Linked DNA regions of Homo sapiens. The protein of the gene in region 2 interacts with the protein of the main gene of each other region in a pairwise test. Each region holds a gene or a part of one and is shown on either strand. Other genes may lie near its edges.

The links.
Region 1: the proteins of SPANXN2 (region 2) and CDCA8 interact in binary tests that used the Homo sapiens proteins (3 or more experiments, as listed by UniProt).
Region 3: the proteins of SPANXN2 (region 2) and RRP1 interact in binary tests that used the Homo sapiens proteins (3 or more experiments, as listed by UniProt).
Region 4: the proteins of SPANXN2 (region 2) and SYTL4 interact in binary tests that used the Homo sapiens proteins (3 or more experiments, as listed by UniProt).
Region 5: the proteins of SPANXN2 (region 2) and L3MBTL3 interact in binary tests that used the Homo sapiens proteins (3 or more experiments, as listed by UniProt).
Region 6: the proteins of SPANXN2 (region 2) and ZNF438 interact in binary tests that used the Homo sapiens proteins (3 or more experiments, as listed by UniProt).
Region 7: the proteins of SPANXN2 (region 2) and NOL12 interact in binary tests that used the Homo sapiens proteins (3 or more experiments, as listed by UniProt).

The regions. Positions count from the first base shown.
Region 1 is NC_000001.11:37,694,868-37,699,471, forward strand, and holds part of CDCA8 (borealin), read left to right. Parts: intron 1-1,042; coding exon 1,043-1,083; intron 1,084-4,037; coding exon 4,038-4,110; intron 4,111-4,604.
Region 2 is NC_000023.11:143,710,968-143,715,220, forward strand, and holds the end of SPANXN2 (sperm protein associated with the nucleus on the X chromosome N2), read right to left. Parts: intron 1,533-4,253; coding exon 1,068-1,532; 3' UTR 988-1,067; downstream 1-987.
Region 3 is NC_000021.9:43,795,609-43,800,212, forward strand, and holds part of RRP1 (ribosomal RNA processing protein 1 homolog A), read left to right. Parts: intron 1-1,813; coding exon 1,814-1,943; intron 1,944-2,022; coding exon 2,023-2,087; intron 2,088-2,298; coding exon 2,299-2,492; intron 2,493-3,961; coding exon 3,962-4,041; intron 4,042-4,604. UniProt on the Homo sapiens protein: Plays a critical role in the generation of 28S rRNA.
Region 4 is NC_000023.11:100,721,426-100,726,029, forward strand, and holds part of SYTL4 (synaptotagmin-like protein 4), read right to left. Parts: intron 1-4,604. UniProt on the Homo sapiens protein: Modulates exocytosis of dense-core granules and secretion of hormones in the pancreas and the pituitary. Interacts with vesicles containing negatively charged phospholipids in a Ca(2+)-independent manner.
Region 5 is NC_000006.12:130,052,681-130,057,284, reverse strand, and holds part of L3MBTL3 (lethal(3)malignant brain tumor-like protein 3), read right to left. Parts: intron 4,427-4,604; coding exon 4,294-4,426; intron 2,115-4,293; coding exon 2,030-2,114; intron 1-2,029. UniProt on the Homo sapiens protein: Is a negative regulator of Notch target genes expression, required for RBPJ-mediated transcriptional repression. It recruits KDM1A to Notch-responsive elements and promotes KDM1A-mediated H3K4me demethylation.
Region 6 is NC_000010.11:30,850,098-30,854,701, reverse strand, and holds part of ZNF438 (zinc finger protein 438), read left to right. Parts: intron 1-4,334; coding exon 4,335-4,604. UniProt on the Homo sapiens protein: Isoform 1 acts as a transcriptional repressor.
Region 7 is NC_000022.11:37,691,180-37,694,599, forward strand, and holds the end of NOL12 (nucleolar protein 12), read left to right. Parts: coding exon 1-157; 3' UTR 158-2,295; downstream 2,296-3,420. UniProt on the Homo sapiens protein: Multifunctional RNA binding protein that plays a role in RNA metabolism and DNA maintenance. Participates in the resolution of DNA stress and the maintenance of genome integrity by localizing to sites of DNA insults.

The DNA.
Region 1 (4,604 bases), on a different chromosome or scaffold from region 2:
CTCACAAAGACCTTTTCATTCAACACGTTTACTGTACATCTATTGACTGCTAGATTTTTGCCAGAAGCAAAGGATGTCATCTCTGGAATTCAGTCCAAGGCAGGGATGGACATTTAAACAGCTTTGAGTAGTTATTGGGTATAATGAGGGTGAGCAACTAACTCTACACTTTGCAGCAAACTGCTGAGATAGAAAAATAAGCAGGCTGGGCACAGTGGCTCACCTGGAATTCCAGCACTTTGGGAGGCCAAGGCAGGTGGATTACTTGAGCCCAGGAATTTGAGACCAGCCTGGGCAACATAACAAGACCATATCTTTAAGCTTTAAAAAAAATAATTAAAAATAAATTTTTAAAAAAGAAAAATAAGCAGAGGGCAGGGCATAGGGTGGGGATTCATGCCTATAATCCTAGCACTTTGGGAGGCCAAGGCAGGAGTATCACTTGACCCCAGGAGTTCAAAACCAGCCTGGGCAACATAGCAGGAGACCACATCTCTACTTAAAAAAAAAAAAAAAAAAAAAAAAGACAACCTGGACAACTTGGCGAAACCCTATCTCTACAAAAAAACACAAAAATTAGCCGAATGTGGTGGCGCATGCCTGTAGTCCCAGCTACTTGGGAGGCCAAGGTGGGAGGATCAGTTGAGCCCAGGAGACAGCCAAGGAGGCGCCACTCCACTCCAGCTTGGGTGACAGAGCAAGACTCTGTCTCAAAAATAAATAAAATTTAAAATATATTTTTTAAAAAGAAAAATAAGCAGAATTTTTGGGGTGATGTTTGAGCTGAGTTTTGAAGGATGAGTTAGAAATTTGTTAAGTACGGAGGTGAATTTCAGGCAGAGGAAATACAAAGTACCATGGCAACAAGTCATGAGAGTCAGTGGCACATTTGGGATATAACTTGGAGAAAGAATAGATTAGATGGTGAAGGTCCTTGAAGGTTAGACCAAGGGCTGGACCAGTTTTAGAAAGATAAATGGTACTATTAGGCAAGATGATTTATTGTTAAAATGTAATAGTAACTACAACGTTCTTTTTAAAGCCCTTGGAGGAAACAAACAGGCCCTGGAAGAGGCGGCAACAGTAAGTGACCTTTCCTATTTTCCAGCCAGTGGTTACTTAAGTCTAGTCCAGTCCCCAGATCCAACTAATAGATGCTTACTGTGGAAGAGGTTTCATAAAGGGACATCATCTGTTTGTGTCAACTGAAAAATTAGAGTTGGACCAGACACTGTATACATGAGACCCAGATAGTTCTGAGCCCTACAGAAGGTGGCAGTTCTGTTTTTGACCAATTTCTTGCAGTCCTTTGTTCTGAACTCTACAGCGGAAGTAGAAAGCCTCAAGCCCAAGTTCCTTTAAGCGCCTGAGTCATTACACTATGCATTGGCCTGCTAGATGATAAAGGTGTTTCATCATGTCGTACTGTAGAAGCAGTGCTTTTGCTTGGGATGCTCAGTATTCCCCAACCCCTCTCATCTCCTTCCTCCCAGCATCAGTGCCAGGATTGAAGGCAGTAAGATGGGGATGCAAAATAGAGCATTTAAAGCTGCACTGTCCAGTGTAGTAGCCACTGGGCATATGTAGCTATTTCAGTTAATTACAATTAATAAAATTAAAGAATTCATTTCCTCAGACATACTAGCCACATTTTACATGTTCAATACCTACATATGACTAGTAGCTACTCCATCAGAGAGCACAGAAATAGAACATTGCTACTCTTGCAGAAAGTTTTATGAGACAGCATTGGGAACTAGTCCATACATGGGCTTCACAGAGTCCCTAGGCACTCTAAAATAATATACAAACAATGCGTGTGTATGCACGCATTTGTGTATCTTTCTGTTAGTTTATTGTAGCCTTGATCAGATTTACAAAGTAAACCCCAAAATTACATCTTTTGTTGAGTTGATCAGAATCATTTGGAATATCAGGGTTTGAAGGAGTCTGACCACCAAGGGCACATAGCAGATCTCCGCCAGCTTCATTCAGAAGGTAAAGGTAATGAGGAGCCAATTATCAATTTGGAAAAAATTGGAGCATTTGGGAGAGAGGTGGGGATTATTCACCCCCCTACATACACTGAGCTCCAATGTTTTAAAAGAGTTACCTCTGAGATGAATTATGCTTACTAGCTAATGCAGTTCTCTCTTTTTAAATTAGAAATACAGAACTGCAAATGAGAACTTCTAATGTAATATGAGAGAGCCATTGTTACCACACCAAGTTGAGAGAATTCTAGCCTTGACTAATATGATTTAAAACTCCAGAAAGGAACGATAGAAAATCTATAAAAGCTCTTAGTTGGGAAGTGTGTTGGGGCTCCCAAGACCACCTCCAGGTTTGGTGATTCACTAGGAGGATTCATGGGGCTCAGCATACAGTCACACCCATGGCGATGATTTATTACAGTGAAAGTATACAAAGCATTAATCAACAAAGGAGAAAATTGCATAGGACAAAGTCCAGAGGAAACCAGGCTTCTAGGAGTCCACTCCCTGTAGAGTCAAACAGAACATGCTTAATTCAACACATATGAAATGCTGTCTACCAGAAAATCTGATTAGAGAGTCAATGCCCAGAGTTTTAACTGGGGGCTGCTCACATAGGCATCCTCTGCCTAGCACATGTCAAAATCCTAGACTTTCAGGAGGGAAGTAGGTGTTCAGCATGAGCCATATTGTTTGCATAAAGTTTAGGCACAGTGAGGCATCTTGTTAAGGAAAGGTGGGAATCTTTCTGAAATCAAGTTCCCAGATGCCAACCGAGGCCAGGCTTGCAAACAGGCCTTTCTATGTGTATCAGTCTCAGGCCTGCTCTGTTAACTGTCCTGCACAGTAGATGCCCAGTGGCCTGCCACCACTGATGACTCCATAAAATGCCAGTTGTTTCTAGAGATGGCAGAAGGTTGGCAGGAATGCCCCTACTTTCTGTTGCATCAAGCCTGGCAAACATCAGTAACTTATTACAGCCCTATTTCTTGCTAAGCCTAAGACAGCCTCAGAATCCTTCTCTGAGTATGTCAAGCAGTCCCTACCAGAAATGAAACCTGTGCCATTCCAAACCTGTAGTAATTATTCTGATGTTTACATGTGTTCTATAAGGAAAGGACTGTGAATCATGACTGCTCTTTGTAGTGCCCATACTTATTACCATATGAAAAAAAAACGAATTTGAATGGTGACTGGAAGCCTTTTTGAAGGACCCAGGATCATCATAGAAAACCTTATTGAGACCCTGTAGATTTATCGAAAAAATGGTAAGCTTGACACACCACCAAGTGTTGTAGAGGATGTAGATCATTAGGAACTTGTATTGTTTGCAGATGGGCTGTAGTCAAGGGTAACCACTTTGGGAAACAATTTGGCATAATGCGAAGGCTGAATATTTATGTAACCTATAATCCCTGTCATGTCCTATCCAAAGGATAGAGCCAAGGGGAAACTTGGACATGTACCTCAGACACATGTAAGACAGTTCAAGGTAGCAGTGTTTATAATAGCAGGAAACTATTGATGGAAGATGGACAAATCCATTGTGGTATATTCACACAGTGGGATATGATATAGCAATGAAAACAAATTAACTACAACCACAAAGAGTGGTGAAAACAGCCAAAACCAAACAAAATGCTTAAGTACACACTTGTGAAAAAGCACATCTGTGTGTGCACACATGTATACACACATATGCATGTATCTGTGAGCACATACACATGTACCTTTCGATAAAGCAAGTGCAATGATATGGTTACCCCTGGGGAATGAAGGATTAGGAGACTCATCACCTTTGGAAGAAGAGATAAGAAAATGGAACAAGGAATGAATACAGAGCCAGAAGCAAGTTATTGGCAATGTTTTAGGTCTTGGGCTGTGTGGTGGGTTTATGGGAGTTTGCTATATTGTATATTGTATCACTAACATTTAACAGTCTTATGTATTAAATAATAGTTTTAAAAAAGTTTTTATCTTGAAATATTGTTCCTCATATTTTGGTGGAATAAGCCTGGTGCTTTCTGGCTATGTTTGTCATAGGCTGACCTGGATATCACCGAAATAAACAAACTAACAGCAGAAGCTATTCAGACACCCCTGAAATCTGCCAAAAGTGAGTACCTTTCAAAACTCCTTGTTGTACAGAAAGAACTGAGGCTCAGGTTGCTTGGTTGGCTGCTCAGGCAGCGCCTTGTTGGTAGAGCCTCTTCCCTTTAATGTCTGGTTCTTAATCTTGTAAATCCAAAAACTTGCTTTTGGATGGTGCATTTAGTTAATTTTTTTTCCCCCGAACAGCAATTCAAACCAGAAATTTAGTTAATTTTAGGCAGGACTGCTAAAAACCAAACTCAAGACCCGTGTGCGAGCTAAAATGAAAGTGAAAAAAGGGGGGAAAAAAGCTGTGCTAGAAACCAAACATTGTTGCCTGCTTACTTTCTCCTGGGTTAAATAGATGACAAGATTTAGAGAGGTGTTAAAAGACTGGTAACACCAACTGAGACGCTCCCTGATGTAATCAACAAAGTTGAAAGCGAATTGAAAAAGGAATGACTTTCTCTGCATATAATTCAAAATTACTCAATTCAGGCCAGGTGCGGTAGCTCACGC
Region 2 (4,253 bases):
CAAGGGAAGAATTCTTAATCATTGACATTCTATAGAAATGCTGGTGTATGGAAGTGGTAATAAAAATACCAACTTTTACTTGTATCATTATATTCAAATTCTCTGTAGACTATGCTTTCATTTATTGCCTGCAGTAGACAATGGCCACTAGTTTCTTAACAAGGAAATGCCCTAGTATTGGGACCATGGCCTCCAAACACCATTATTTTGGTGTGTGTGACATGCTGTCTTACTCTATGTAGGGTGAGGTTTTTTGTCCATTTGAGGGGCTTCAGTTGCTTACAGTATTGGTTGAGTTGCAACCCAAATCACTATGAGGTATGTGGCCTGGAGGTGGTGATTTTGATGTCTTCATTTTGGAAAGAGTGTCACTGTCACCTACATACAATACAGATCTTTGTATTTTATTTTATTTATTTATTTTTGAAGACAGAGTCTCGCTCTATCCCCCAGACTGGAGTGCAGTGGCCAGATCTCAGCTCACTACAACTTCCGCCTCCTGTGTTCAAGTGATTCTCCTGCCTCAGCCTCGCATGTAGCTGGGATTACAGGCACCTGCCACCACTCCCAGCTAATTTTTGTATTTTTTTTTTTTAGTAGAGACTGGGGTTTGCCATGTTGGACAGGCTGGTCTCGAACTCCTGACCTCAGGAGATCGTCTGCTTCGGCCTCCCAAAGTGCTGGGATTATAGGCATGAGCCACCGTGCCCGGCCAATACAGATCTTTTTAAATGCCCTTCTACATATTCACATGCTCCAAACACCAAGTCCTTTTCTTCCTCTCCTGTTAGATAAAATTTTAAGAAGAAAATTTGTCTCTAGGAATAAGTCCTCCCCCAGGCCTTATTTACAATGTCTGGGAAACTGTCAACCTGTGGGTCTGTCCGCCAACCCTACAGGATCTCATATCCTTCCCTTCTCAAATGCCTACCTCTTCCCTTCCCTTCCTTCCCACCATCAGACAACAGGCAGAGATATACACGGTCATCAGCTCCTCAAACTTGATTTTATTGTAATCATCGCCATTGGTAGTGAGGATTTGTCCAATTTGGTTTCTCCATGTTTGACTAGTCCTCCCCACCCTCCTGTGAAGATCCTTCAGATGAGTCTAGGTCTTCGTCCTCCTGTGAAGATCCTTCAGGTGGGTCCAGGTCTTCGTCCTCCTGTGAAGATCCTTCAGATGAGTCCAGGTCTTCGTCCTCCTGTGAAGATCCTTCAGATGAGTCCAGGTCTTCGTCCTCCTGTGAAGATCCTTCAGATGAGTCCAGGTCTTCGTCCTCCTGTGAAGATCCTTCAGATGAGTCCAGGTCTTCGTCCTCCTGTGAAGATCCTTCAGCTGAGTCTAGGCCTTCGTCCTCCTCCTCTTGGACTGGATTGATGGAGTTCTCTCGGGACTGGTCCTTCTCCAGTTGATTTGAATTTATTTTCGTATGCTTCCTGTAGTAATACACTATTATTGTTAGATATTCTATTGTTTTTGTCTTTTGCAAGCTCTGTTTGGGGGCTAAGACCCTGTTCGGTGCCTCCTGCATCTGATAAGAAAACAGGGAGAGGCCAGAAAGTCATTATTTTGGGTGAATAGGGTAGAGACTGGATAGCAAGGGGGGCTTTATGAGAAGGAATGCAGGTTGAGGAAGGGGTTTGTGCCAGAGAAGAACAAGGTGGAATCATAGGGTAGTGATCTATGGGGAAGAAGAAGAGGAGCATGGGTAGGGTCATCTGTTAGTCCAAACTGCACGATTTCGCAAGTTCTTTGCTATTTTGCAGACCTTGGTCAAAGTGAGACACTCCATGGGGGCTCAGGCCGTGAGAAACATCCTGCCTAACCACCTGACCACAGGGCGGACAAAGGCCCAACTAAAGAAACATTCCTATCATATCTTGCTTGGCAAAGTTCTAAGGAACGCCACAATGATATTCCACTGGAAAAAGGGCCAAACCACCTGATCATAAGAACATCTTATCAATATCCTGCCGGATAGCATCCCACATTGCCCAGATCCCTCCTGCCCATCCCTGTAAGTACCCCAGCCTGTAAGCGGCGGTGGGCTCTGGCATTAAGCTTGTCCTCCACTTCCATAGGTGTCTGCCATATTCCTGTGTTGCTGTTTGAGCTGCCCCCTGTGTGTCTTTCTTTCATCCTTGCCTTCCCTTCAAAACCTAACATTTTGGTGCCAAAACCTGGAGTGGTGATTGGGTTCTAATGGGTAAGTTTTCTCTTGCAACCTGGAAAGCAGCAAGCAGCACAAACTAGACCAGGGCCTGCTTCCAGATCCTGAGTGTACTCCCTGTTCCCAGTCCCATTCTCCTTATTCTCTAGTCTTCTCCAGACCTGGGCTAACCTCCAGATAGTGATCAAACAAGCCACCTTATTTTTTGTTCCTTCCTGTTTCCGGGCAGCTGCAACAAGGATCACCCCCATTTCTGGACATCACATCCAACACTGGGCTTCAATTAGTGGGTGAGTCTCCCTCTTCCTCCTTTCCAGATTCCTCTCTATTTCTGCCCGTTCTCCAAAAAATTCCAGTGCTGGGTGAGAGGTCTCCCCAGTCACCAGGTGACTGCAGCCTCCCTTCTTAGGGTACACCTTCAAAACGTTTGCCACTCTGGCTGCTCTGGCCTCTGGGGAGCATGAATAGTACGGGGCTGCCCCAACTCTCCAGGTCCCTTCTCCCAGGAGGAATCAAGTACTCACTTCCCTATGGGGTATTCACTTCTCTCTGGAGTACTCGCTCACCCCTGGGGTACTCACTCCCTTCCAGGGTACTCACTTTCCTCAGGGGTAGTCACTCCCATCCAGAGTATTCACTCCCCTCTTCCAAAAAACAAAACATTCAACTTCCAAATTCAACATAATCTAAAAAACTTTCTTCAATGCAATGGTAAATAATCTGAAGTGCTTTGCTTATCTCCTTTCATGCCTCACTCTCTCTCTCTCTCTCTCTCTCTCTCTCTCTCTCTGCCAATCTTGTTCACCTTTTCAAATCTTCCTCCTCAAGGAGAAACCCCCCAAAATGCCTCTTCCTCCGGACAAGTCTTCTTCCTCTGAATTTCAACCTGGCCAACACACCCGTTCTTCAGCCTCCTGCCCTCTCCCATTCCCTCCACCTTCTCCTTCGGATCCGGCTCCTCCACCCCCTTACTGTCGCCCTCCATCCCCCTTCCTTCTCCACCTCAAACCAGGTCTCACACCCAACCCCCTTTCGCTAGGAACCAGGCACATGCCCAAAGGCCTTCCAAAGTCCTTCCCTTGCAGGAGGTTGCGAGGGCTAAAGGCATAATCTGAATTCAAGTTCCCTTCTCTCTAGCTGAGTTTTCCCATATTGAAAGGAGACTTGACTCCTTTTCAATGGATCCAACCTCCTTCCACAAGGAATTCTTGTACTTCCCTAAATCTTATGACCTTACCTGGCATGACATATATGTCATCCTCTCCTCTACCCTCACCCTGGAGGACAGGGAACACATCTTTATGGGTGCCCAGGTCCATGAGAACACCCTCCACCAACAAGATGCTGCTCATAATCCAATAGGGACCCTAGCTGTCCCCAGAACTGGCCCCAGTTGGAATTATCAGGCAACTTCAGTAGACAGACAGAAATCAGGCCATATGATATCATGCCTTCTAGCTGGCATAAATAAAGCTGTCCCTGCTCGTTTCCTCTCCTGCCTTTCAAAAGTCACAACTAAATATGCCACCTTAAGCCCTAATACCAATAAGGGCAAAAACTACCTCCATTTATACTTTATCTCCCAGTCAGACCCAGACATTTGAAAAAAACTTAAAAAACTGGAGGGTGGCCCTCAAACCTTCCAAAGAGACTTAATCAAAGTGGCCTTCAAGATCTATAAGATTAGAGAGGAAGAACTAAAAAATCCAAACCTAAAGAAGGACCAGGCTAAATACCAAATGCTGGTAGCTGCCACTCAACAGGGTTCCCAAGGCCTACAGAATTCCTCAACTTGGCAACAGTCAACTCCAGGAGCCTGTTACAAGTTCGTCTAACAGGGACACTGGGCAAAAGCCTAGCCTAATCCCAGGACACTCTGGAAATCTTGCCCCATCTGTGGTATCAAGCAACACTGGAAGTCAGACTGTGCTCACTGAAACTCTTCATCCTGCTTCACCACCTGTACCTGAAGACAGGTGGGGCCTGGAGTCCACCGCCCCTACTGCCATCACCACCTCGGAACCCAGGGTAATTCTGTCAGTCTCTAGTAAGCCCATGTCTTTCCTATTGGATACTCAATAG
Region 3 (4,604 bases), on a different chromosome or scaffold from region 2:
GTGATCTTGGCTCAACTACAGCCTTGACCTCCCGGGCTCAAGTGATCCTCCTGCCTCAGCCGCCCAACTGGCTGGGACTGCAGATGTGCACCACCAGGCCCACGTAATTTTTGTATCTTTTTTTGGTAGAGACGAGTTCTGTCCTGTTGCCCAGGCTTGTCTCAAACTCTTGGGCTCAAACAATCTGCCTGCCTAGGCCTCCCAAGTTGTAAGCAATGTTAATTGCTCCTAATTCTAAAAATATGTAAATTGGCTGGGCGCGGTGGCTCACATCTGTAATCCCAGCACTTTGGGAGGCCGAGGCGGGCAGATCACAAGGTCAAGAGATCGAGACCATCCTGGCCACCATGGTGAAACCGTGTCTCTACTAAAAGTACAAAAATTAGATAAATGCATAGAAAAGAATTAGCAGGCTGGTTATGGTGGGTTAAGGGGATCTCTTGAGCCCAGGAGTTTGAGGCTGCAGTGATCTGTGACTGAGCCACTGCACTCTAGCCTAGGTGATAGAGTGAGATTCTGGTTTTTTGTTTTTTTTTTTTAAAGAATCAGCAGGAATTGAACTGTGGCTGCTGAGTTTCTCTAGGTTTGAGTTGCATGGGTGATTTTGCATTTAGGGCAGCGGTGCCTCTGGTTTGGAGGGATTTTCATTCTTCTATTCCCTGGCAGGACTCTGATGCCAGGAGTCTCATTCATTCTGGGCCTTAGCATTGTGGATTACCCCATAGGGGTCTCATGGCTTAAGCTGAATTAAATGTTAAAGGGATGATTTTACTTGTGTTAACTTTTTTTGGCATATTATTACAAGAGTACTTTTCTCCCTGTAACTGAGAATTCAGCACAGGAATCATGTGGAAGACCTCGGTGCCTTCCCCCAATGCCTGCTGCGGTCCCAGTGCTGACAGTGGGGTCCGCTCTTCCCGCCCTCTTGGATCTCCTGCAGGCATAACCAGGCTGTCATTAATATCCACGCCATTGCCACTGGCCTGGGAAGTCGGTCCCTTGCATCTGTGTGTCTTCCTCTTGGTCTCAGCACCTGTTCTTGCCTCTGTCTCGTTTTTCCTGAGCCTTAGAGAGCATCACTTTTCCTTTCCATCACGAGTGATTCTCCAGCCTTGCTACGGAGCTTCCTAAGGATCACACAGTTTACAGATCTGAGTTAGGCAGCTGCGTTATTAAGCACCCCAGGAGGTCCAGATGCATGTAGGTGCTACACATTATTCTCTGGGGCTGTCTAGTCTTCAGATCCAGGGCCTGTGATGCCATCAAACCCGCCTGCCAGGGAGAGCTCTGGTGGACGTCACAGTTGGAATGCGTCGTGCGGCAGGGCCCAGGAAGCCAGCAGGTGGCTCATGGTCCTCGGCCCCTTTCTGGGCCTCCACCTTCCTTTCTCTGCCTGTGCTGTCCTGACGTGTCTTCCCCAGCGGTACCCAGTGGAGGCAGTGGAGAGGAACACCAGGCAGGGCGTCTCGTCTCAGCCAAGCCTTTCTCTCTGCTAGCAATCTTGAGGACAGAGGGAAGGCCTGTCTGAATGTTTACACGTGCTGCATTTTGTAGCTGACATGCACACTCAGGCCATACGTTCTGGTGGTGGTGCTGGTCACATAACTCCCTAACTGCAAGACTGCCTTGCGCTGGAGGAGACCTAGGATCGTTGATATCATCTGCGTGGACTTTAAGGCTGGCATGTTTGCAGACAGTGGCGCCTGCCCGCACTTAGGTTCCCATCAGAGCGTGTAACCATGGGAGAGTGGGGGGCACGGCTGTCTTGGGGCTCATCGAGGCTGCCTGTCATGTTTGCTTTTTCTTTCCTCAGACAGATCGAGGAGCTGCTAGAGCTGCTGATGACTGAGATCCTGCACCCCAGCAGCCAGGCCCCCAACGGTGTGAAGAGCCACTTCATCGAGATCTTCCTGGAGGAGCTGACCAAAGTGGGCGCCGAGGAGGTGAGGCTGGGCTCCGACGGGGCGGTGGAGCTGGGCGTTTGTGGAGGAGGAACTGAGCTCCCGCTGGCTTTCCCCGTAGCTTACGGCAGACCAGAACCTGAAGTTCATCGACCCCTTCTGCAGAATTGCTGCCCGGACCAAGGAGTAAGTGGTGGGTGGCCTGATCGGGCCCGACTCCTTCACTGAGTTCTTCCATGGGGCTGCTGTTGTGGGGGTGCTGCTCCCTCGAGGGATGAATCTGTCTCAGAGTGGCCGCTGGCCGTGTGGGTGGGGAGAGGTTGCAGGGGAGTCGGCGGCTTCCGCTTGGGAATCCAGCATAACGGGCCTGCTCACCGGCCTCTGCTCTGCCCCTCAGTTCCTTGGTTTTGAACAACATCACTCGAGGCATCTTTGAGACGATTGTGGAGCAGGCCCCGCTTGCCATTGAAGACCTCCTGAATGAACTGGACACACAGGATGAGGAGGTGGCGTCGGACAGTGATGAGTCCTCTGAGGGTGGTGAGCGTGGAGACGCGCTGTCCCAGAAGAGGTCTGAGAAGCCGCCCGCAGGTGGGGGTCACACTGCGCCTGGCTTCTCCTCGGGGCCTGTCCTGGGCTGAGCCAGTGCGATCTCCTGCTGGGTTGCTCCTGCCACCTCCTACCTGGTCCCCTTGTCTCTGCCCCTCTCCACAGTCCATCCTCAGCATAGAAGCCAGAGTGACTTCTGTGGGCACCAAGCACACGTCGTTTCCCCTCATCCCCCAGCCTCTGATGTGCTCCACGCCCTCTCCGGACCCCTGGGCTCCTCGGTCTAACGCATGCCTCTGGCTCAGTTGGCCCCCTAGACTCGTTCCTGCCTTGGTGCCGAGTCTCTCCGTCCCTCCCACCGTCTCTCCCCCCATCACTCTCTGGGGCTGGACTCTTTCAGCCTCCTGGCCTCTCCCAGCCCCCAACGCAGTCCTCCCCATAGCGTCACTCTGTGGCACGGGATGTGAATCACTTGCTCCTCGTGTTCCTCGTTCCTGGCCCGTCTCCCCAGAGGACAGCAAGCTCTGTCCATATTGACCATGACTGGGTTCAGGCCTGAGACCTCAGGGCACCTGACTGCTCTGTGTGCAGTGTGTGTGAGGGGCAGGTGTACTCACCTGCCCCTCACTGCCTGCCAGAGGCCTCTGTGGGCAGCCGTGGGGTCCAGCCTGGCCCATTTTTTGTTTTGATGCTGCACTCATTGTCCGAGCCTGCTGGGTGGTCTGAGCTCTAAGTGTGGCATCCTGGTGCTGTGGAGGGCATGTCTTTGACCACGCTCAGGACCCCAGTATGCCCCAAATCAGTGCTGTGGCCACTGTTCCCCTTGGCTTCCTAATCAGAAGACCCCCTCCCCACCGCCCCCAGCACTTGGCCCGGCCACCCTGTATGCTTCTCCCTGGTCTCTGCCTTGCCCTTCTCTCTCAGTAGCTGAGGTGCCTGGCAGGTCCGCTAGTGCCTGCTGCTGGCCCCCTGCTGCCAGCTACAGAGCAGACCCTTGTCACATGCTGCCCCACAGCTGCCTGTTGCCCAAAAACCTTTCTTCTGCAGACAGTGCCATCAAAGCCCCAAATGCCCAGCCTAGCTCGAGCACCCAGCCGAAACATCAGCTCCCACAGCTTCTGGACCAGGCCACCCTGAGGCTCCTCACTTCCAGAACTTTTGACATGGCCTTTGTTGCCCAAGATGCCAGCTTGTAGTCAGCCACTCAGGGCTGTGTAGGCACCTGTGCCCTGGGACATCTTTTTTTCCTTTGCAGGCCTGAGGTGGCACCTCTCATCCTGTCCATACGAGATTAGAGGTCACATGGCACCTAGTATCTGCCTTGAGCTGTGGGCTTTCCCGCCTGTGCCCATGTTCTGACCAGGGTGCAGGGTGGGCTGTCCGTTCCCGGGTGTTTCCCGCCTGTGCCCGTGCTCCGACCAGGGTGCACGGAGCGGGCTCTCCATTCCTGGATGTTTGGGGCCAGCACACGTTGGGCACAGGTAGGGTTCACGGGGTCCCTTTTGTTCCAGGCTCCATCTGCAGGGCTGAACCTGAGGCTGGTGAGGAGCAGGCAGGTGACGACAGGGACAGTGGCGGCCCCGTTCTCCAGGTGGGTTCCCTGGGCTCATGGCTGTGCCCTCAGCCTTTGCCCCTCTGTGCTACCGCTTGCTCTGGAAGAGGAGGGGGGCGTTAGGAGGGAGGATGGCAGCTGTTGGCATGGAGAGTTACCCGGACAGGGGTTAGCTTTGAAGGAGGGATGGGTGCCCCAACCCTGCCCGCCTGTAGACGAGTGGGATCATTGAGAGTGGGGCTGGGGCCTGGGAAAGTGGGGCTGGGGCCTGGGAGGGTGGGCTCAGGCAGAACTGCATTATCCAGGGCTGGCCTCACCTCACGCTGTCCTCTTGCCTCACACATGGGCAGCCCCCCAGATTTCCTGCGGCCCCCTCGTTGGGGTGCTGGTGGGGAATGAGATGGCATGTGCCAAGCGGCTGGCCTGTGGGTCCCAGCGAGGAATCCACTCAGCCAGTGGGGTCTGACTTCAGGCAAATTGGAAACTTAAATGTTTTAAGTTTTAAATATGATTATCTGCAGACTGAATAAAATGTGGCTATCTTGGGTTAAAATTGATCAATTTAACCTATGTTGTTCGTGCTTGTCTGTGTGGTTCCTAGA
Region 4 (4,604 bases), about 43 Mb from region 2:
TGTATGACAGAAGGGACTTTGTTTTGTTCATTTCTGTACCTTTGGTGCCTAGAGCACTGCCTGGATCATAATATGCACAAAATAAATATTTGTTGAATGAATGAGCTGGCATCAAGAATACCATATATCATATTCAGCCACACCCAAGAGCTTATCATCTAGGACTTCTCCACCTTTGATATCACTGATTCAACACCCCCTCTCTGACCACAACCTGCTGTGCTTCTAGCCTATTCAGCCAATGAGCCCCCCAACTAGCCCCATTCCTGTTCTCAGATTTCTTGGATGGGGGCAGTCTTCCATAGACCCTTCTGCTTTCACCTCCTCAGCTCCTTCCCATCTTTACTTCCTTCCCAATAACATTTAAATTTTATTGTTTCTTTCTCTTTTTTTTTTCTGAGACTTTTTCTCTATTGCTCTGGCTGGAGTGCAGTGGCATGATCTTGGCTCACTGCAACCACTGCCTCCTGGATTCAAGCGATTCTCCTGCCTCAGCCTCCCAAGTAGCTGGGATTACAGGTGTGCGCCACCATGCCCGGCTAATTTTTGTATTTTTAGTAGAGATGGGGTTTCACCATGTTGGCCAGACTGGTCTCGAGCTCCTAACCTCAGGTGATCCACCCGCCTCAGCCTCCCAAAGTGCTGGGATTACTGGTGTGAGCCACCGCACCCAGCCAATTCTATTGTTTCAACTGCACTCTTGTCAATATCCTCAATAATGCATAATTTCACTGCAAATATCTGATTTAAAAAACCATAGCTCTTCTAAGCCCAACTGTTATACTTTATGCATGCACAAGGACTCCTGAGATCTACTGGAGAAAAAAAAATCACACTCTGGTAGATTATTATCCATATGAATTCTTGGTCACCAAGCTCATCTTAACCCTGCCTGGCACTGCAACTATGCTTCCCTAGGCTGCTCTCCTGTTCTCCACAATAACTATTTCAAACCTTCTTCAAATACCACAAATATCTAACTCAAACCTTGTCCCATCTTAACCCCTGCTCTAAGAGGTTGGCCTTAACTATTATATCATAGAGAAATAGAAATACCATCAGACAAGTTCCTGCCGCCAAATCTATGAACCTACTTTCATCTATGCCTATTGAGGATAATCCTCTACCTCAATCTGGATCCCCTCCCATCTGGCATAAGGACTTTGCCTTCCAAGGATTTTGCTCTATTAATTAGTCCCTCCTTCCCACCAGCCTTTAAAGGAACTCAAGTCCTTCCTAAATAAATAAATAAATAAATAAATAACAGGTCCTCAATCTCAACTCCTTCCTTGCTACTACCCTTTCTCTGCTCTTCAAAGCCAGACAGATTTCTCTAAGGAATTGTACATAATCACTGCCTTCACTTCCTCATCTCTCCAATCATTTCTCAACCCACCATAGTTTAGCTTTCTGCCTCACAGTTCTCTGAAATTGCTCTAAGGTCACCAAGAACTTCCTAAATCCAATAGACAGTTCTTGGTCTTCCTAGATTTCTCTGGATCTTTAGTACCACTGACCATATTTTTAACATAGCCATTTCATTTTGAGAAACTTATTCTGCTGATATTCAAGTAAATTCACAAATATATATTCTGAGGATGCTCAATATTTGAAACAGCAAAAAAAAAAAAATTAAAGAACATAAACATCCATCAAAGGAAACTGACTAGTTATTGTACACACATATTAGGGAATATTGTGCCTTTGTTAAAAAGAAGAAGGTACGGTCTCCCTCTGATGCAGAGGTGAAGCTGGACTGTACTGCTGCCATCTCGGCTCACTGCAACCTCCCTGCCTGATTCTCCTGCCTCAGCCTGCCGAGTGCCTGCGATCGCAGGCGCGCGCCGCCACGCCTGACTGGTTTTCGTATTTTTTTGGTGGAGATGGGATTTCGCTGTGTTGGCCGGGCTGGTCTCCAGCTCCTAACCACGAGTGATCCGCCAGCCTTGGCTTCCCGAGGTGCTGGGATTGCAGACGGAGTGTCGTTCACTCAGTGCTCAATAGTGCCCAGGCTGGAGTGCAGTAGCGTGATCTCGGCTCACTACAACCTCCACCTCCCAGCCGCCTCCCTTGGCCTCCCAAAGTGCCGAGATTGCAGCCTCTGCCCGGCCGCCACCCCATCTGGGAAGTGAGGAGTGTCTCTGCCTGGCCGCCATCCCATCTAGGAAGTGAGGAGCGCCTCATCCCGGCCGCCATCCCATCTAGGCAGTGAGGAGCGTCTCTGCCCGGCCGCCCATCGTCTGAGATGTGGGGAGCGCCTCTGCCCTGCCGCCCCGTCTGGGATGTGAGGAGCGTCTCTGCCCGGCCGCCCCGTCTGAGAAGTGAGGAGCCCCTCCGCCCGGCAGCCGCACCGTCTGAGAAGTGAGGAGTCCCTCCGCCCGGCAGCCACCCCGTCTGGGAAGTGAGGAGCGTCTCCGCCTGGCAGCCACCCCGTCCGGGAGGGAGGTGGGGGTCAGCCCCCGCCAGGCCAGCCACCCTGTCCGGGAGGGAGGTGGGGGGTCAGCCCCCGCCAGGCCAGCCGCCCCGTCAGGGAGGGAGGTGGGGGGGTCAGCCCCCCGCCCGGCCAGCCGCCCCGTCCGGGAGGGAGGTGGGGGGGGTCAGCCCCCCGCCCAGCCAGCCGCCCCGTCCGGGAGGTGAGGGGCGCCTCTGCCCGGCCGCCCCTGCTGGGAAGTGAGGAGCCCCTCTGCCCGGCCAGCCGCCCCGTCCGGGAGGGAGGTGGGGGGGGTCAGCCCCCCACACGGCCAGCCGCCCCGTCCGGGAGGGAGGTGGGGGGGTCATCAGCTCCCCCGCCCGGCCAGCCGCCCCGTCCAGGAGGGAGGTGGGGGGGGTCAGCGCCCCGCCCGGCCAGCCGCCCCATCCGGGAGGTGAGGGGCGCCTCTGCCCGGCCGCCCCTACTGGGAAGTGAGGAGCCCCTCTGCCCGGCCACCACCCCGTCTGGGAGGTGTACCCAACAGCTCATTGAGAACGGGCCATGATGACAATGGCGGTTTTGTGGAATAGAAAGGGGGGAAAGGTGGGGAAAAGATTGAGAAATCGGATGGTTGCCATGTCTGTGTAGAAAGAGGTAGACATGGGAGACTTTTCATTTTGTGCTGTACTAAGAAAAATTCTTCTTCCTTGGGATCCTGTTGATCTGTGACCTTGCCCCCAACCCTGTGCTCTCTGAAACATGTGCTGTGTCCACTCAGGGTTGAATGGATTAAGGGTGGTGCAAGAGGTGCTTTGTTAAACAGATGCTTGAAGGCAGCATGCTCGTTAAGAGTCATCACCACTCCCTAATCTCAAGTACCCAGGGACACAAACACTGCGGAAGGCCGCAGGGTCCTCTGGCCTAGGAAAACCAGAGGCCTCTGTTCACTTGTTTATCTGCTGACCTTCCCTCCACTATTGTCCTGTGACCCTGCCAAATCCCCCTCTGCGAGAAACACCCAAGAATGATCAATAAAAAGAAAAAAGAAAAAAAAAAAAAGAAGAAGGTACTGTAGTTCTATATATACTGACACTGAAAGCATATTAAATTAAAAAAATTGCAAATCATATATATTATGATTCCATTTTTATTTGTTTACATTTTAGACAGATTGGATCATGGATGAATGGAAAAATGTCTAGAAAGAAATACAATCTTAACATTGTTACCTCTGGAGAGTGGGATAAGCAGGAACAGAAGATTTATATGTTACCTTTTATTGAGTCAAGTAATAAAAATGTAGTCCCATCCCTAAGCACAGCAACACTTCTAGGTAAGAAAAAAATTTCACAGGAGATCAAAAGGGAATGGCCGTAGAGACTAGGGGAAAATATTTTAAGGTCACCAGGGCTAAGAGAGAAAGGAGAGAAGTGTAGCTAATGGTTTCAAACATGGAATGAGAGATCTATTAAAAACAAGAAGAGGTAAGTATCCAATAGACAGAGAGCGTGAATAGATAATTCTTAAAGGGGAAAAATCACATGGCCAATACACATCAAAAAGAAAAAGTTTCACTCTTACTGGCAATAAAGATTTTTTTATGTTTGCTTATTAATTCAGCAAAATTTCAGAAAGACAATTTTCAGTTTTTAAAAAGGATTTAAGAGATATTCTCATATTTTGTTGGCAAATGTAAATTAGTAAGGCCTGTTAAAAAGCAATGTGACAATCTGATTTCTAAGAAAACTGAACTTCACAGAACTTATCACAATTGTAATTAAAAAATTATGTGATACAATATTTAATATACACTTCCCCTGCCGAAATAAGTTCCAGGAGAAAAATGGCCATTGTCTACCTTCTTCTCAGCCATACCTCAAGCATCTAGCTGGGTTGATGGATGGATAGATGGATAAATCTACATTGTAGGATCCTGACTGTAGGCTCTCAGTTGGTGCAACGTAAATCCTCAGTAAATCAACACAGAGCATGGCACAACATAGGCCCTCAGTAAATCAAATCACGCTTTCTGATGAGTTTAAAGACACTGATACTAATGGTATTCTGATGCCTGAATCGATAGAGCTACAAACAAGAAGCAGTGTAGATGCCATGGAAATTTTCTACTTCTTAAAAATTACTCAAGGTCAAGTTAGGTTTAGATAGTCACAGATATGAATATGAAAGCCACAGT
Region 5 (4,604 bases), on a different chromosome or scaffold from region 2:
GTATCTCTGTCTCTCTTCCTGGCTCGTCTTCCCAAGAACCAAGATAAAAAGTGAACTGTGGTTTGCACCTACAGTGAGGAGGGTAGAAGATGGAAGTGGAAGTACTTAGAATAAAGGAAGAAGACAGCAGGAAGTCAAAACAAAACACTACCACAGAAGCTACAGGAAGGGAGAGCTTCTAGAAGCAGGATGCTCAAAAAATTTTCTCTAAGAGATCAAGAAGTTGAGGACTGTGGAAAGGCCAGTGCATTGAGTGGCTGCTAATCTTGAAAAGGAAGGAAAACAATCAGTATAGTGAGAAGCAGATTTTTAGGTGCAAAAAGAATACATAAGTGATAAAAATAATAGAGGCAGTTAATATTAGTTTTATATATTTTGGATTAATTTGACAAATACTGGAAATGAAGGAAAAATGTAATAGCCTGATGGGTAGCAAAGCTGAGAGAAAGGTACTTTGGGGATGAGACTGGAACAGGCTAAGGTAGAGTATACAAAGAGAAGAAAAAAATCGGAAAACTTAAGGAAAAAATGTGACTGAAGGAACAAGGTCCCAGAAGAGCCAGGGGCCTGGAAGTTCATCTGAGGTGAAAAAGAAGGGCAGGGGAAATGATGGTGAAAGAAACAGACATTTGGAGGCAGAGTGCAGAGGAACTGAGGAATTTACACCCTTCATCTCAGTGATGTAAAATAGAAGGTCATCTCTGAAAAGACACAAAAGTTAAGCTGTGTGCCTAGGGCAGGTGGGGCTATTTCCAGTTTTTTGAGGAATTAACAGAACAAGGCTAGAATGCACCCCGGCACTGAGGAGAAGCACCTGGTTCATGGCCCTGGTTTGTCGGGACAGTATGACTGACTGTGCAGGCTGCAAGCTGAGGCAGGCAAGGGGATAGAGCCTTGTGGGGGACATCCCCCAGGGCCTCTATGGAAGTGACCCAAGGTCCACACAGAATAAGCAGAAAAGTACATCAAGACAAATACTAAAGGGAAGGGCTTCAGGGCCGGTTTCCTCCTGGAAATAAAATGCTGCCTGAGGAACAATGAAACAAACAAAAAAAAGGGCCAGGCACAGTGGCTCATGCCTGTAATCCCAGCACTTTGGGAGGTAGACACGGGCAGATGGCTTGAGGTCAGGAGTTCGAGACCAGCCTGGCCAATATGATGAAACCCCATCTCTACTAAAAATACAAAAATTAGCCAGGCTTGGTGGTGCACACCTGTAATCCCAGCTACTTGGGAGGCTGTGGCAGGGGAATCACGTGAACCCAGGAGGTGGAGGCTGCTGTGAGCCGAGATTGCGCCACCATACTTCAGCCTGGGTGACAGAGTGAGAATCCATCTCGAAAAGAGAGGGGAGGGGAGGGGAGGGAAGGGAAGGGGAGGGGACAGAAGGGAAGGGAAGGGAAGAGAAGACAGAAGAGATGAAAAGAGAAGGCAAAAAACAGGTTCCACGCCAGGAGCTCATGTTTTGAGAGGGAACATTAAAAACCTAAAACTGTGGGAAATGAACAAGAACAGAGGTTTTATAGAGAAGCAGAGGCAGGAAACACCTACTTGATGAGGGGAACAGAGAGAGAGAGAGAGAGAAAGAGAGAGGGAGAGAGGGATGGAGGGAGGGAGAGAGAGGGAGGGAGGGAGAGAGAGGGAGGGAGGGAGGGAGGGAGACAGGGAGAGGCGGAGACAGAGAGGGAGGGAGAGAGGGAGAGAAGGAGGGAGGGAGAAAGGGAGGGAGAGAGGGAGACAGGGAGGGAGAGAGGGAGAGAGGCAGGGAGAGAGGCAGGGAGAGAGGGAGGGAGAGAGGGAGGGAGAGAGGGAGGGAGGAAGACAGTTCTCATGCTTACCCTGAAACCACTTGAAAGTTAAGAATTTTCATTTTTTTCCTTATCCTCAAAATCTCAAATCTTTATTGACCAAACTGAATCAAAGAAAATCCTGAAGTAATACTTTAAGTGGCATGACTAAAATTTCCACCTGTGTGAACCATTTCCAATTTCATAAAGTTACAAGTAAGACTTTATTTTCATCAGCTCACCCTGCTTTAGTACAGCCGAATCCCCTCGTCTTTTCCTCCGTGCTCTCTGCGAACCCCTCAGGATTCTTACATCTTGTTTGTTCTCCTACAAAAAGAAAGGAAAATTATGACTTTAAAGTTCAAGAAATTGGCACCAGTGAATAGTTAGAGAGCTATCAGAAAGCACTTTTTCTGTTGTTCTTTTCTTCAGTTTTACTTTGTAACTTTTAAGGAAAGTAAGAATATAGTTCATCTGAAAACTGTTGCTTTTGGCCTGAGGTTATTACAAAATAAGACTGTATCCACGTGTTACCGGTTGGAAGGGCATGGACACCGCTCCCCGCTCCTTGAAACACTTTCTGCTCTCAGCTGCGTGACCGCTCTGCTCTGATTTTCCTCACGCCTTACTGGCTCCTCTTTGTCTCCTCTGCTGATGTCTCCTCCAATCCAGTTCCCTTCTCTACTCTTTCTAGTCCCTTTCCCTGGGTTTTCAAGGTCATCTTACATAGGCCAGATACTCCCAATCCACACCCTCAGCTTCCTCTTCCTTACTCCATGTGGCTGTAGACAAATGCCTACTTGGGATCTTCACCTGGATGGTTAATCAGCATTTCAAACCCATCATGGCCAAAGGACTCTGTGTTCTGCACTCCACCCTCATCTTCCCATTCTCAGTAAGAGACAGGATTATCCAGCCAATTGTTAAAGCCAAAGTTTTATCCCTGATTTTTCTCTTTTCCTCACACACTCTGACAACCCTACCTCTAACATTGATTCCCAAATCCACGGACTTCCATCATCTTCAGCCTTCTTACGTTGTCTACTGCAATAAACTCCTAACTGGTTTCCCTGATTCCACTCAGGGCTACAGTGGTCATTTAAAACATACATCATATCAAAGCATTCCCTTGTCTTAACTTTCCAGAGGCTTCCCCTGACACTCAGAATACAATGAACACCCTCGACTCTTGTTTACCATAAAACCCTACATGCCCTGGACCACAGGTACCTCTTCAACTTCATCTTACTCCACCCTCTCCTAAACCAGTGACCAGACTTCCTTTTATTTCCTCGAACAAAACATGCTGTGCAAGTTCTTACCTTAAGGACTTTCCTCTGGAAGTTCTACTACCCAGAAGACGCCTCACTCTCAACTTCACATAGCTGACTCCTCTTCATTCATCAGATCACACTGTTCATGCCATCGTCTTTGAGAGGGCTCCCTGACAACCCAACCTAAAGTAGTCAGCCAATCCTAATGCCCTATTTTAATTCTCAACGTAGCACTTATCACTAGGTGACATTTCTCCTGTTCATTTTGTTTGTAGATTAACTACCCCCTAAACAAGAATGCAGTGTCTCTGCCAGGAGAGACTCTATGTCATCTATTTGTCTTATGCATCCCTGTATTCTCAGCTCCTAGAACAGTGACTCCCAAGTAACAGTTGTACAATACCGATCTCAACGGAAACACTTCCAGATCTCAAAGTTCCCTTTTCCTATAAAACCATTAATAGATGCCTTTAGGAATATGATATTTATGTTTTAATTCACACATTTTGAATGGCTTTTCCCCAAATATACCTGATATTTGTGTGCCATTTTTTAACCACTCAGATAGTTTTTTTTGTTTTTTTTTTTTGAGACACAGTCTCGCTCTGTCGCCCAGGCTGGAGTGCAGTGGTGCAATCTCAGCTCATTGCAAGCTCCACCTCCCAGGTTCACGCCATTCTCCTGCCTCAGCCTCCCGAGTAGCTGGGACTACAGGAGCCTGCCACCACGCCTACCTAATTTTTTGTATTTTTAGTAAGGAAGGGGTTTCACCGGGTTAGCCAGGATGGTCTCGATCTCCCGACCTCGTGATCTGCCGGCCTCGGCCTCCCAAAGTGCTGGGATTACAGGCATGAGCCACCACGCCCAGCCCACTCAGATAGTTTTATGAGATCTGTCTGCAATTTAAAGAAATGAGATTGGCATTGTGTTGTCAAGAGGAATTTAAGATTCATCTACAAGACTGAAGGTTTTTAAATGTTCCCTTTCACCCTAGCACTAAATTTCAGGACATCCCACTTTTTCACCCTGAGAGAAGGATACTATTGTTTATGATTCCCATTTTGAGATCAGGACAGCAAGGCACACAGAGGCCATGTAACTTACTGACACTAACACAGATAGTCCTGGAACCCACATTTGAACTCAGTGGGCTCCAGAGCAGTGCTTGTGACTGTGATGCTACCCACTAAAGATGCATCCCTGTGCTCCTGGTGTCAGGCAGAGGCACTCACCATTTCATCATCTCTCTCTTCTCCATCCTCCTTGGTGTCAGCTTTCAGAGATAATTTTGGTTTTTTCTTCCGACTACACTTAGGATCTTCTTCCTCATTGTCTTCTTCTACGTCCCTTTCTTCCTTCTGATCTCTGTTGTGTTTATAAACCCAAAATAGTGACAAGAGACAATACCTATCAAACATCTACTTGTTGATTATCAATGCAACAATCATTAAAAAAAAATCACCCTGCAAAGGAAAAATCTTTAACTACCAGGAGAAATCTGTAGGCATGAGAATATCATATATCAGGAACACTGAAAACAACT
Region 6 (4,604 bases), on a different chromosome or scaffold from region 2:
CATTCTCTTTTGTTATTTCCTCAGGTAGGTAGTTGATTATTAGCTCCTTATTCTGGCAATAAATAAAATTACATTTTAAGATGTCTCAGAGAAATATCCTCTGTTTCTTTTTTAATTTTCAAAATATGGAAATGTTAAAGGTCATTTTTAAATTGTGTTCTTTTTTTCCCCACTGTTTACAAAATTTCCAAGGCTCAACCTCTAAATTATTTATTTTTCTCATTGATCACTCTATTACCACTTTAAAAATTCAACAAATATTTAGTAAATCTCTGTCACGTACTGGACACTGTAGGCCCTGAAGACACAGACCAACTCCCTGTCCTCTAGGAATTCTAGGGAAGCCAGGCAGTATATGTGATACTTTATCTATTAATTTTTATTTTTTGAGATGGAGTCTCGCTCTGTCACCCAGGCTGCAGTGCAGTGGCGCTATTTCGGCTCACTGCAAACTCCCGGGTTCACGCCATTCTCCTTCCTCAGCCTCCCGAGTAGCTGGGACTACAGGCGCCCACCACCACGCCCAGCTAATTTTTTTGTATTTTTAGTAGAGACGGGGTTTCACCATGTTAGCCAGGATGGTCTCGATCTGCTGACCTTGTCATCCACCTGTCTCGGCCTCCCAAAGTGCTGGGATTACAGGCGTGAGCCACCGTGCCCGGCCTATATGTGATACTTTATTCATTTATTCATTCATTAATTCATTGGAGATGTAGTCTCACTGTGTTGCCCAGGCTGGAGTACAGTGGCATGATCTCAGCTCACTGCAACCTCCACCTCCCAGGTTTAAGCAGTTCCCCTGCCTCAGCCTCCCAAGTAGCTGGGATTACAGGCACTTGCCACCACACTCGGCTAATTTTTGTATTTTTAGTAGAAACGGTTTCACCATGTTGACCAGGCTGGTCTCAAACTCCTGACCTCAAGTGATCTGCCTGCCTTAGCCTCCCAAAGTGCTGGGATTACAGGCATATGCCACCATGCCTGGCCATAAATGGAGCATATGTTCTAGAGAAAATGAAACAGGAAGAGGGAGCAGGGAGTTCACAATGGGATATAGTTTTAAATAAGGTCATCAGAGGAGATGCTCGTTGAGAAGAAGCCATTTGTGCAAAACCTTGAAGGAAACGATGCAGCAAGTACTGGGGATTTACTGAGGGAAGAGTGTCTTGGGTGGGCGGGAGTAGCCAATGCTCCTCCCAGCCAGGAGCCTCCTCTCAGGAGGTGCATGCCCAGAACAGCAAAGAGGCCACCATGGCTGGAGTGGAGCAAGTAGAGGAAATATGTCAAAGAGGCTCCTGAGAACCTTTTTAAGCATGAGGCCTTTTAAGCCATTGCAGGGATTTTGGCTTTACTCTGAGATGAAGAGCCATTGGACAGATTTGAGATGAGGAAGTCATAGATCTTGTGCTATGATGTGTTATTGTCACATATTCTTTCAAGAGGGTGAATTACTAAGCCTTTGTTCTAGCTCATCTTGCGGTAAATATTTTCTGCCCAGTTAGGAGGAAGAACTAGTGATAAATGACCCAATATTTTCTCTTCTCTTCCTTCCACACCCCAGATCTGTTGTGTAAATGCAAAGAACATTATTACTGTTAATGTAATTATTTATTAAGCCACATCTCTAAGTAACCAAAAGCCATCAATAATTTTAGGCTTTCTGCAAAGTCTCTCAATCCTGATTTAAAGTGTTTATTTATGACTTATTTTGGTACTTCTTCCAAAAAAAAAAAGATGAGAAGGTGAGGTTTAAAATGAAAAACATTTAAATTTAAAGGCTATGAAAATAAAACTTAAAAATTAAAATTATGTAGGAAGAAGTAGCAATCCATACAGATGACTATTGTCAAGTGATTTACCACTCAATTTACCCATAAGCGGAATTCACGGTAACCAAACTCAGAAGGAAAACAACAAATAACATAATTATCTTTGTCTGATTTTTCCAGACAATAGCACTCACTAGTCCTTGTACTTCTTACTCTCGTGCAGGCTATCCTGTGAACTTATGTTTCATAATGTCCTTTTTCTTTGCAAAACAATTACTTTCTAAAAATAAACTGGTCAATATAAATTTCACCTTATTTCTACTAGGTTGCTTGTTTATTTAGGCGGTGTCATTTCTGCTGAAAGAATCAACTTCCTGCTAAAATTGTTAATTCACTCACTGTAGGCATTAAAATCAAGGTTGACGGGCCGGGCGCGGTGGCTCATGCCTGTAATCCCAGCACTTTGGGAGGCCGAGGCGGGCAGATCACCTGAGGTCGGGAGTTCGAGACCAGCCTGACCAACATGGAGAAACCCTGTCTCTACTAAAAATACAAAATTAGCTGGGTGTGGTGGCACATGCCTGTAATCCCAGTTACTTGGGAGGTTGAGGCAGGAGAATCACTTGAACCCAGGAGGCAGAGGTTGCTGTGAGCCGAGATCGCACCATTGCACTCACCTAAGCAATAAGAGCAAAACTCCGTCTCAAAAAAAAAAAAGAAAAAAGAAAATCAAGGTTGATGTTACATTTTCTTTTCTTTTTTTTTTGAGACGGAGTCTCGCTCAGACTGTTGCCCAGGCTGGAGTATAGTGGTGCGATCTCGGCTCACTACAACCTCTGCCTCCAGGGTTCAAGTGATTCTCCTGCCTCAGCCTCGCCAGTAGCTGAGATTACAGGCATCTGCCACCATGCCTGGCTAATTTTTTTTTTGTATTTTTAGTAGAGACAGAGTTTCATCACGTGGCCAGGTTGGTTTCAAGCTCCTGACCTCAAGTGATCCGCCCATCTCAGCCTCCCAAAGTGCTAGGATTATAGACGTGAGCCCCCGTGCCCAGCTGATTTTACATTTTCAATTGTCTGTTTCACTAGATTGTCTGCTACCTACCTTGTATCCTCTAACAGATAGTGTTCAGTCCCCTACCCCCAACTCTAAAATCTAAAAAACTCTGAAAACAGAAGTTTATGAAAAGTTGTTACAAACTCATTCAGAAGCAAAAACTTGAACTGAAATAAAGACAATTTAAAAATCTTCATTTGTCCAACTTGCGAATATTTGCATGTTTTGCTACAGAAGTGGTAATAGGTTCAATTATGGGTGCCCTGCAGATTCCGCTGGGAGTTATGTAACATTTAGTACACGCATCTTACTACTTTTCCAAAATTTGAAAATATAAATTCCAAACCACATCTTCCTCCAAAAATTTCAGAAAAGGGATTGTGGACTTGGCAATAGCCAATCCTGGGATAATGATTGGAATAATGTAGGTGCCTAGTAAATGTGAATTGAAGTTTGATTAATATGAGATACTTAGAAATTAGAAACATTTCTGCAGCCAGGTCTTGTGACCTTGAGACCTCAGAGAATAAAATAGATAATTCAGTCTTTAGAAGCAGGACACCAAAATGTTTCCTTAATTGTTCTCTTAAGGTAGTAGTAATTGATCTTAGGTCAGGCTAATAAATCCAGAAAGAATGAAGTGTTACCCTATCAGTCAAAATTGTTCCTATTAGTATCCTAGAAGGTGCTTTTTATGCCATTCACATATTTTGCATGTTGTCTCTGTATCTGTACTTATCACTTTGTATCTTTCTGTTTTTTGTTCAACATTTTTTAAAGGTGTCACATCAGCTTTTTTAATACTGGTGATTTAATTGCAAAAGCACACATAAACAGTTTGAAAGGTGTGAGAAGAAATTCGTAAGTCACATGGGGAAACAGCAACAAAGCTAGCATTCAGTCTGGAATGCATCCACTGTGCAAAACAAATTCAACTGCCAGTGGGTCAAATGGTGTATCCTGAGATTGAGTGAAAAATGAGTTTGATACAAGAAGCGCTTGTTTTATACAAAGGATACAGTGGGAAATATCAAGATGAGATGAATATAGGCTGTACCCTCACAAAGCTGAAGCTTAATAGGGAAAGCAGAACATGTATATAAAATAATAAACTACATAGCAGAACATACCAGACATCATGTGAAGATGAGTGGGGATAGGTTAAATGGAGAGGATGGACTTGCAGAATACATGGATGAGAAGGACGGAATTTTCGCTGTCAAGCAGTGTTGACTAGTAGAGATACACATAAACACATAAATTATTATGGAAAATGGTAAATAACATAATAGGAGCTAAGGAACCATAGATAAGTATAGAAATCCTTGGGGAAGGTAGGCAGGAATTGATCTTCAAGCTGGTCTTGAGGGACACAAGATTTTGCCCAGAAGGCTTGGAGGTAGGTCAAGGAATCTGTTCTGGGCAGAGTAAATAAGATGCTTGTTGTTTGAAGTATCACTAACAGAACAGTTACATACAGTAACTCTTTATATTTTATTGTCATTGCAGGTGAATCAAACATCCCTTCTGGAACAATACAGAGTAGGAAAGGTTTGCAGAATAAGAGTCAGTTTAGGACCATTGCACCAAAAATTGTGCCCAAAGTCCTAACGTCCAGAATGCTGCCATGTCATTCACCATCACGCTCTGATCAGGTGAATCTGGGACCCTCCATCAACTCCAAGCTGCTGGGGATGTCCACCCAGAACTATGCCCTGATGCAGGTTGCTGGCCAGGAGGGGACATTTTCTCTTGTTGCTCTGCCACATGTTGCCTCAG
Region 7 (3,420 bases), on a different chromosome or scaffold from region 2:
CTCCCTCACAGCATCACTACATGCACACAGCCGCAAAAAGGTCAAGAGGAAACATCCCCGACGGGCCCAGGACTCCAAAAAGCCCCCAAGGGCCCCTCGTACCAGCAAGGCCCAGCGCCGCCGTCTCACAGGCAAAGCACGGCACAGCGGGGAGTGAGACCGAGAACGAAGCGGTGCCCCAGTCTAGGCTGCGGGGACCTGTCCTTGCTCAGCTTGGCTGTCCCTGTAGCCCAGCCTGCACCTAGGTAATGACTGCACAGCTCAAGGTTGGGAAGCCAGGACCTCTCTGGCCTGGGGCCAGCTGCCTTTGCCTGGGGTCAGCTGCCTTTGCCTGGGGTTTGAATTCCCGAAGGAGCAGGCAGCTGAGAGCAGGCCTCCCCCAGGAAGAGCCTTCAGAGCCACGTGGGGGCATCTTCCCAAATGTGCACCCCACCTGGCACTCATCAGATTTGTGCGCTTGTGATTTGTTTGTCCTTGATACCACGCACAAGGGCAGGTTTTTGGGGTGGTGGAAATGGCCAGGGCCCATGGGTCTGTCTCCAGCAGTTAGCCCTGTGGCTGCAATAAAGTACAGTTCTCCCTGTGTTAAGATCCTAACCAGGGTTAAGGATCAGTGTGTCCGTTGCTAGAATCCAGAGCCCACCTGCTGCTCTGAAAAGCAGGCTCCTGAGGCCAGTGGGGGAGCAGTGCCCCCCATGCCCTTCACCGAGGAGCCTCTGTGCCTGTCCCTTGTCCTCGGCCCCAGGAGTCTCCTCAACTGACACTGAAGTGGTGGAAGCAGTTGAGTGCCAGGTCATCCCCCATCACCACACTGGGGCAGCGTCCCCAGGCTTCCAGCAGCTCCCAGGTGGGTCCCAACGTGGAAGGATTAATTAATTCTTTCTAAAGCAGTTGCAGCCGGGCTTGGTGGCTCACGCCTGTAATCCCAGCACTTTGGGAGGCCCAGGCGGGCAGATCACTTAAGGTCGGGAGCTCGAGACCAGCCTGGCCAACATGGTGAAACCCTGTCTCTACTAAAAATGCAAAAATTAGCCAGGTGTGGTGGCACACGCGTGTAATCCCAGCTACTTGGGAGGCTGAGGTGGAAGAATCACTTGAACCCTGGAGGCGGAGGCTGCAGTGAGCCGAGATCACGCCATTGCACTCCAGCCTGGGCAACGTTGTGACCTTGTCTCAAAAAAAAACTAAAAAATAAAGCAGTTGCATCTTGACTCGTACAAAAGTAGCCCCCACCAGAGTAGACCCTGCGGGTGCCAGCTAGAACTCCACAAGGGGCCATGTCTTCACACTCCTTCCAGATGGATGAGTTGATGGAAACCCTGTCCCTTCCTTGTCCCAGCTTGTCAGTCCTGGGCAGGAGAGAATTTCAGGTTGTGCCTTGGTTAGAGGAGCTGTGTTGGGTCCTAAACACTAGGACCACAAAGGGGAGTGAACTGTGTTCCCAGGGCTTGCTGACGCCCGTGGACTATGGAGTCAGGATGACAGGACAGTGCGGTGAGGGGCATCTGCGACAGGACTGCGGGCTCTACCCGCCCTGATGTGGGAGCTCCTGGAGTGGGGGTGAGCAGTGAGCCAGGGTCTGCAGGGCTGTCCTCTCTCCACAGCCAACAGCCAGGCCTTACAGTGGGGCAGGCTTAGTGACTGTGCCTCAGTTATGCTGTACCTGGGAGTGGGCAGGCCCTCTCCCATGTCACCATCAAAACCCACTGATGAAGGCTGGTGGGAGTCTGAGGGCTGCACCCGGGTATGGTGAGTTCCCCTCAGGGATTGTGCTGAGCGCCTTGGCCTGGCTTCTTGGCTCCGCCCACCTGCTCTCCCTGCCACCAAGTTGTCTTCCCCGGGTGGCATGTGCCACTTGGCTGCCTCGTGCCTGGGCACAGTGGTGCCTATTATGGGCCCTCCAGGTGGCTCTGGTGCTCAGCCTGCTGTGAGCAGGAACAGCTGAGTCCCAGGGGTTCTTGCACACAGCAGGGCTCGGGTTTGAATCCAGGCTCTGCTGCTTGGTCGCTGCATGAGCTTCTGCTGTGCTGACCTCTCTGGTTTGTCTCGTCATGTGTAAGGTGACACCAGATACCTACCTCTTAGGGCTGCCCCGAGACTAAAATAAGACCATGTGCATGAACCACTTACCAAAGTGCCTGTTGCTCTCCAGGTGTGCCTACCGCATGTTGCCGCTGCTGTTTCTGCTGGGACGTCTGACTCCAGTTCCTTCTCCCCTCTCCAGTGACAAGGTCATTTACAACTTACATTTACAATTTATAGTGTTTACCAGTATTAAATTCTCAGCCACTCCTTTCCATGTGTGCCTTCATTTCTTCCAGCAGACCAGGGAAGTTGAGTCACAGTGATTTGACCAATTCTAGGATCAGGGTGGTGGATTCAGAGCCCTCTGGAGAACTTGTCTTTTCTCCAGGAGCCCCTCACCATTGCTGTGGAGGCACCTGGGCTCCTTCCTCCTGTCGCTTTCCAGAGTTGGGCCTCTGAGAGATGTATGAGGAAGAGTTAAGTTTAGCTGCATATACTCTAAAACAAAATTGAAAAACAACTGGCTTGTGTAAAAGAGTTCCCATCCCAAAGATGGGAGGTTCCCAGCCTGGAGCTGGGAAGGCTGGAGGCTGGGATGCCGGGCTTCTAACTCTATGCTGTGTTCTATGTTGTGTGCCATTTTCAACACATGGCCCCTGCCTCACAGCACAAGGTGGCTGCTTGAGCTGCAGCCATTATGTCTGCATTTCAGCCAGCAGGACAGAAAAGGGGATGAAGAACATGCCCCTCCTTTTGAAAACATTTAGGGCCAGGTATGGTGGCTCACGCCTGTAATCCCAGCGCTTTGGGAGGCCAAGGCGGGTGGATCACCTGAGGTCGGGAGTTCGAGACCAGCCTGACCAACATGGAGAAACCCCTGTCTCTACTAAAAATACAAAATTAGCTGGGTGTGGTGGCGCATGCCTGTAATCCCAGCTACTCGAGAGGCTGAGCCAGGAGAATTGCTTGAACCTGGGAGGTGGAGGTTGCGGTGAGCCGAGATCATGCCATTGCCCTCCAGCCTTGGCAACAAGTGTGAAACTCCGTCTCAAAAAAAAAAAAAAAGAAAAATTGGCACTTGGCATGTCCTGTTGGCCAGGCAGGAGGCAAAGCATGAGGCAGAGGCAAGGGAGCTCTTAGCTACAAGACAGGCTAGGAACTCTTCTATTTATTTATTTTTTGAGATGTAGTATTGCTCATCATCCAGGCTGGAGTGCAATGGTACAATCTCGGCTCACTGCAACCTCTGCTCCCCGGATTCAAGCAACTCTCCTGCCTCAGCCTCCCCAGTAGCTGGGACTATAGGCACCTGCCACCACGCCTGACTAATTTTTGTGTTTTTAGTAGAGATGGGATTTTGCCACGTTGGTCAGGCTGGTCTCGAACTCTTGACCT